Linked DNA regions of Homo sapiens. The protein of the gene in region 1 purifies or fractionates together with the protein of each later gene. This does not show direct contact. Each region holds a gene or a part of one and is shown on either strand. Other genes may lie near its edges.

Evidence for each region. The genes of interacting proteins can lie anywhere in the genome.
Region 2: the proteins of SYN3 (region 1) and GART purify together in Homo sapiens (co-immunoprecipitation; one large-scale study listed by IntAct). This does not show direct contact.

The regions. Positions count from the first base shown.
Region 1 is NC_000022.11:33,048,382-33,051,881, forward strand, and holds part of SYN3 (synapsin-3), read right to left. Parts: intron 1-3,500. UniProt on the Homo sapiens protein: May be involved in the regulation of neurotransmitter release and synaptogenesis.
Region 2 is NC_000021.9:33,514,618-33,518,117, forward strand, and holds part of GART (trifunctional purine biosynthetic protein adenosine-3), read right to left. Parts: intron 2,992-3,500; coding exon 2,740-2,991; intron 2,525-2,739; coding exon 2,372-2,524; intron 1-2,371. UniProt on the Homo sapiens protein: Trifunctional enzyme that catalyzes three distinct reactions as part of the 'de novo' inosine monophosphate biosynthetic pathway.

The DNA.
Region 1 (3,500 bases):
GAAAATCATGTGTAGCTAAAAATACCCTCAAAAATATTTTTGAAATGTGATCCCCAGTATTGAAGGTGGGGCCTGCTGGGAGGTGTTTTGGTGATGGGGGTGGATCCCTCATGAATGGCTTGGTGTCCTCCCCTTGGTGATGAGTGAGTTCTTGCCCTATTAGTTCACACAAGAGTTGGTTGTTAATAGGAGCCTGGCACGTACTCCTCTCTCTGTTGCTCTCTCTCTCACCATGTGATATGCCTGTTACCCCTTCGCCTTCTGCCATGAGTTAAAGCTTCCTGAGGCCTCACCAGAAGCTGAGCAGATGCTGGTGCCATGCTTGTACAGCCTGCAGAACCTTGAGCCAAATAAACCTCTTTTCTTTATAAATTACCCAGTCTCAGGTATTCCTTAATGGCAATGCAAAATGGACTGAAACAACATGTATGAAGGTATTAGAGGCTGTTTATCCAAACTGAATGACGGAAACCTTGCAAGCAAATACATACTCCTAAGAATTCCCTCTCCTTCACCCCATGCCCTAGAGATTTGACAGTTACCTTAAAAACAGAGCAGCATGAAGATGCAGACAACTTCTTTTTTGACCTTCTTTTTCTACTTCTTTTGCTGTAGGCCAGAGTTTTGCACACTGGATAGCACAGGGAATTACTATTCAGGGTTTCATACACAAAAACCATGTATAATGCAACTTTCTGACCATTAAAATATATTTAGGGTATTTTTGGCTACACATGATTTTCACACCATACAATGGGTTTAGAGCCTAAAAAATGAGTAAGACACAGTGTTGCTGTACCCTTAGCTTCCTCTAATTTACTCCCGCTTGATAGATAATCAAGAAATGTTAGCTCTAGAAAGGAAGTTACAGATTGCCAAGTTCCACTCCTTGCCAGGGCTTCAATGATGACAGGGCCTTGGAAGGTGGGCTCCCCCTGCTGGACAACTCCACTACCAGCACGTTCTTCCTCTATCTGCTATCGGCTTTTCTCCAAATTCCACTGCTGCAGCTAGCTTTGCCCTCCAGCCCTGCAGAATAATTATAACTCCTCTTTCCTATGATAATAATTTGAATTTCTGAAGCCTGTTATTTGGGTGAGACTTTCTTAATGCTATAGTGATCATGAAAAGGGTCAAGTATCTGCACTGTGCTTTTTAATAACCACGGGATGGTTTTTATTCTGGGTGCTCGTCCAAGCTATTGATACCCGCCTCCCCATTAGGCAGCTCCACCAATTAATTAAATTCAATATTTTGGGAGCTACGCTCTGGAAGCATGCCTCTTAGTCGGGAAGACAAAGAACAAAAACCACACGGCATGTGGCAACTACTCTTACAGTGGCACAGATTCGGTGCCAGCCGCACGCAGGAGGAAAGGGTCAGGGTCTCAGCCCATCCATTGGGAAGGACTGCTAACCTGTGAGCTAGAAGACCCCAGGAAACACAGCCTGAGCCTGCTCAAGGAAAGTGACCAGGTCTCATACTCAGCTTGCCTGTTGCCCTCTGTGTCTCAGACACCAGCCACAAAGCCAAGCAGAGGAGGTTTTCCATAAGCCTACTCCAATCTTTTGGCACTGGAAAGGGGCCTGGAGGTGAGAATAACTAAATGCAACTCACTCACCCCATGTGTCTCAAATGAATGAGTGTTGTTGTTTTATTTTTTCTTAAAAAAAAAAGTTATAAAAATACAACTCCAAACACCTAAGACAGGGAGTCTTTGTGTCCATTTCTTCCCATCTGTCAACTCATCAAGTGACATGAAACAAATCCCCTAACTTCTGTGGACCTCCATTTTCTCAGCTACAAATTGAGGGGCTTGGCCAGGCACAGTGGCTCACACCTGTAACCCCAGCAGTTTGGGAGGCTGAGGCAGGTGGATCACTTGAGGTCAGGAGTTCAAGACCAGCCTGGCCAACATATTGAAACCCCATCTCTACTAAAAATACAAAAAATTAGCCGGGCGTGGTGGTGCACGTCAGTAGTCCCAGCTACTCGGGAGGCTGAGACATGAGAATCTCTGAGCCTGGGAGGTGGAGGTTGCAGTGAGCTGAGATCATGCCACCGCACTCCAGCCTGGGTGACAGAGCGAGACTGTTTCAAAAAAAAAAAAAAAAAAAACAAAACAAAGCAAAACAAATTGAGGAGCTTGATCCAAAGAACTGTAAGATCCCTTTCAGAACCAGGGTCCTCCAATCTTCTGTGGTCCCAGACAGTGAGTGGATAAGCTACAGTGACCTGGCTGAGCTAGTTTATCTCAAAACCAGCACATGACTTCTAGTACAGAAACAGCATGCAAGGAAACAAAGGCAGACAAAAGATTCCTGCTCCAGCCCCACCATTATCCTGCCATGGATCCCTCCCTCAGTACATCTGCCTGCACAGCTCTAAATACCAGCCCTGCCACTGAGCAAGTGGATCATCTTGGACAAGTCACTCAACCTCCTTTAGCCTTGATTTGCACATCTGCAGAGTGGGGTTAATTTTACCCACTACCAGCGCAGCTCGGATGATGAAATAAATTAAAACCCGTATAAAGCACCCAGTACCTAGAGGACATATGCCGTGTATCCCTTTATTCAAACATTCTTTACCCACTGAGCCCACTTCATCAACATATTCAAATTCCAAAGGCTTATAGTAATCTGAAGCCCAGGTGGCCAGACCTAGAAGGGCTGCAAAAATCAGCAAGTCCAACTCCTTTCTACCTCTGCGATTTACAAGGGAGAGAACTGAGGCTCAGAAACGTTCGGTGACTTGCTCAAGGACCTACATCAGCAAGCCTGGCCTAGAACACAGGGTGGCAAACACCAAGGACCACACAAGACACAAAGATAACCCTTTGTAGGCCTCATTCTCCAAAATTGAGAACCCATCACTTATAACCCAATTCTGAAAAATTAAAAATAGAAAAATTTTCTATTTCTGTATATCTTTGGAGGACCGCAAGAGATAGCCAGGATCGCAGTGTGTCTATGAAAGGCAAGGATTTCTTGAATTACTTATGAAATGAAGGTCAGTGGTTCTTGCTAGCAGTTTTCCTCAGCTGCTCTGCTCCCCTCTCCCTTCCCCACATCTACTCATTTCAGTTTACATCTTGAGGCACACATGCCTACATTGGGACCCTTTCTGGACAAGGTGAGAAGTTTTAGGTAGAGGCAATAATCCATTTCCCATTAAACACAAACAAAAAAAAAATCACAGTTACACTATCCATAATACAAAAAGAATTCCTCTCCTCACCCCTAAGAGCCCCAGCCTGGGACACCTAGAAAAGTGCCCAAATACATTAAGGCACACAAACAACCAAGGGTCAGGGACCCAAAGGTCCCCCCAAATGACATGATCAAAATCCATGAGACCATTCAAGAGTCTCTGGAGAAACCTCAGCCCAGATTCTACAAGGGCCACTGGACTGAGCCGGAGTGCTCTAGAGGGAGCTCAGACAATATAAGGAGGAACCAGATTAGAAGTGGTTTCAGAGATACAGGGATAACCTGACG
Region 2 (3,500 bases), on another chromosome or scaffold:
GCCACTGTTTTTTAACTATTTGAAAAGGATGATGAATGAACTACTTATTAAGGTTCTTATATATGCTCACCAGAAAGCATTTCTACCCAAGGAATGTCTTGAACCACTAGTTTCACCCTCCTATGAATCCTTCAACTCCTTAATATGCTCAGTCCATGGACCTGGAAGAGACTCCCACTCAGCCTAGCCTGGCCTGTCTGTTTTGCTTCCCTGACTAGGCTGAAATCCCATCTGACCACTCTCCCAGCTTCCCTTGCCGATTTCCTCACTTCCACACAACCTACCTCTGACTCTTCAGTTCTCTCCGAGCTTCACATACGCTCTGACTCTTGGGTTAGCTCACCATATCTACTCACCTCTATCACTCTGACTGCTTCTCCCCAATGAATGACCCCAATACCTGCTTAGTTCAGCTGGATCAACCTAACTAATCTATTTTTTTTCTGTTCTTGCTTCAAAGCTATATACATGCTTTTGCTCTGGGAGAAAAACTACATGAGCAGCTTCACCTTCACCTGTGCCTTCAGTCCTGCTCACTGTCTCACTCCTGTTTGACCTTGACTGCTTTATCCACTCCTCTCTTCAAGCTCCCACCCCAGGCCTGATCATCTCACTAATACTTCACAGAGAAGTTATTTTATGTAAACTCCCTCAGTTTCTACTCCTTCAAATCAATGTGTATTAGTTGACTATAGCTGGAAAAGTTTCTCTGACTTTATTTTACAAAAACAAGGAAGGGAGGGGCTGGGCACAGTGGCTCATGCCTGTAATCCCAGCACTTTGGGAGGCCAAGGCGGGTGGATCATGAGGTCAAGAGATTGAGACCATCCTGGCCAACACGGTGAAACCCCGTGTCTACTAAAAATACAAAAATTAGCCGGGCATGGTGGCGGGCACCTGTAGTCCCAGCTACTTGGGAGGCTGAGGCAGGAGAATCAGTTGAATCCAGGAGGCGGAGGTTGCAGTGAGCTGCGATTGCGCCACTGCACTCCAGTCTGGCGACTCCAGCCTGGCGACAGAGCAAGACTCCAACTCAAAAAAAAAAAAAAAAAAAAAAACGAAAAACAAAAAACAAAAAAGAACACAGGGAGGGAGGACTCTGTCCCTCACTTTTGCTGCATGCATAAAATTATTCCACTTCCCTTTTACCAGTATGTTTCTTCAAACAGAAATCTCTACCCACTGTCTCCACAACTCTGCCACAACAATCTAGTGGGTGGTATCTATGTCCAGCAAACTGACTTTTGACCTAACTCTAAAATACACTGGTCTTTTTCTAGTGCTTATTCTAGATCTTTGTGCTGTACCTGACACTGCGGACCAGTGTCACGTTAAAATCCTACCTTGGGGCCGGGCGCGGTGGCTCATGCCTGTAATCCCAGTACTTTGGGAGGCTGAGGCGGGCGGATCACTTGAGGTCAGGAATTCGAAACCAGCCTGGCCAACAAGGTGAAACCCTGTCTCTACTAAAAATACAAAAATTAGCCGGGCATGGTGGCGGGTGCCTGTAATCCTAGCTACTTGGGAGGCTGAGGCAGGATAATCGCTTGAACCCAGGAGGCAGAGTTTGCAGTGAGCTGAGATTGCGCCACTATACTCCAGCCTGGGCTACAGAGTGAGACTCTGTCTAAAAAAAAAAAAAAAAAAAAAAGAAAAGAAAAAAATCCCATGTTGGTTTGATGATAATACTTTTACATGGTTTACCCACTACTTTGGACTGTTCTTTTCAGTCACTCTACTTTGAGAAACAACCTTTTGGTCTCCCTCATTCTCTTGGCTATAACTATTACTACGTGCAAATAATCACCCAATTTATCTTCAGCATGACTTCAACTTCTGCTCACAGTCACCTTGGAATAAACACACTGAAGATTTAAAAACCTTCTATTCCAAACTTACTCTTCTTCCTATGTTAATGATGTTACCGCCTACTCACCTGCTTAACTAGAAACCTGAGACTTCTTTTTACTTCTAAGCATAAAATGATTCTCCAATGTGCCTCCCTTCTCTATGCCTTGGTTTAGGTCCTTTTATCTCGAATATGGATTACTTAATAGCTAACATTTCCTTTCCTGGTGTGTAGGGCTCCATCTTAATAGAGCTTGAAGTTACCAATCCCCTTGGAGGACCTACTTATCGAGTACTTCAACTTTATGTAAGCCAATTACATGACAATATTTTATGTCTTATAAATACAGATAATGAAGCAAAAAGAGATAGAAAAGGGTCGAGTTTTTCCCTCCCAAAACCCCCAATGATTAAGAATTTTCCATGTGTAATCATGTGTACATTAACTACCCATAGTTTTCTCGCACAATGCATTTTTTTCCTCAGCAATTTTCTGAACAGAAGTTCGTTTTAGTGATCTTACCTAAATCTACCCCAAGTTTCTCAGGGAGGACTCTGGGGATGTTCTCTAGTAATCCTCCACCAGTAATATGGGCAAAGGCTTTGACATGTCCTGAACGTAGGACAGGTAACAGTGAATGGCTGTAGATTCTGGTAGGCGTGAGAAGTAAGTCCCCTGCATGTTGAAGAGAGAAGACAAAAACTTAGCCTATGAATAGAAAACCAAAACATAAAAATCAACCTGGAGAATGACACCAGCTCTACAATAATGACCAAGTAGCAAACCAAGGTAATTCATTCCCTTTTAGCTCTAAGTAATCAGAGACTAAAACCACTAAATGCTTGCTCAGGCATTTCCAAGCAGGACAGTTTAAACATGAGGGAGTTTACCTAAAGTCTGGTCACCACAACCATCAGGTGCTGGAGAGGAGTACTGGAGGGAAGATTTTGCCACGATTTTCCTCACAAGGCTAAATCCATTGCTATGAAGACCAGATGAAGCTATTCCAACAACAACATCACCCTCAGTGATTCTTTCCAGGTGAGGGAGTTTCTGATCTCGCTCCATGGCACCAACGGCAAACCCAGCTAGGTCATACTCTCCAGGGGGATACATGTCAGGCATTTCTGCTGTTTCACCTCCTGGTGGGATAAGACAAGAACAAAGAAATCAGAGTATTTATAAATCTGTCTAGGAAACAGTGGCACAGGCTACTCTTAACATGAACAACTAACACATGGCTATGTCCTGCAAATATTTAAGAAAATGTACTCTACCAGCTGTCTAACAGAACTTTCCACCAAGCATGATTTCAGGAGAAATAGCACTTGTTTCCACAAAGGGTGAGATTAGGTAGCACCTCTACAAGTATATATGCAGCCGCCAAACACCACTGCTTGCACAGAATGAATGCTCAGTTGAATATAACATCATTTCTATAGCTGTTTAGTTTCAAAACTGCTTTCATATGTATTTGATCTTTATAATCAGTCCATTTTTCAGGTGATGATACAGCCTTAAAGAAGTGACTTAACTGGGACTGCCCAATTCCAAATACCCTAGCTTAAAAAGTATAGCATTTTACTTACAATTATATCATGTCAAGATATAAGGTATAGGCAGACTCCAAATAAGAAACTGTGTTCTAAAC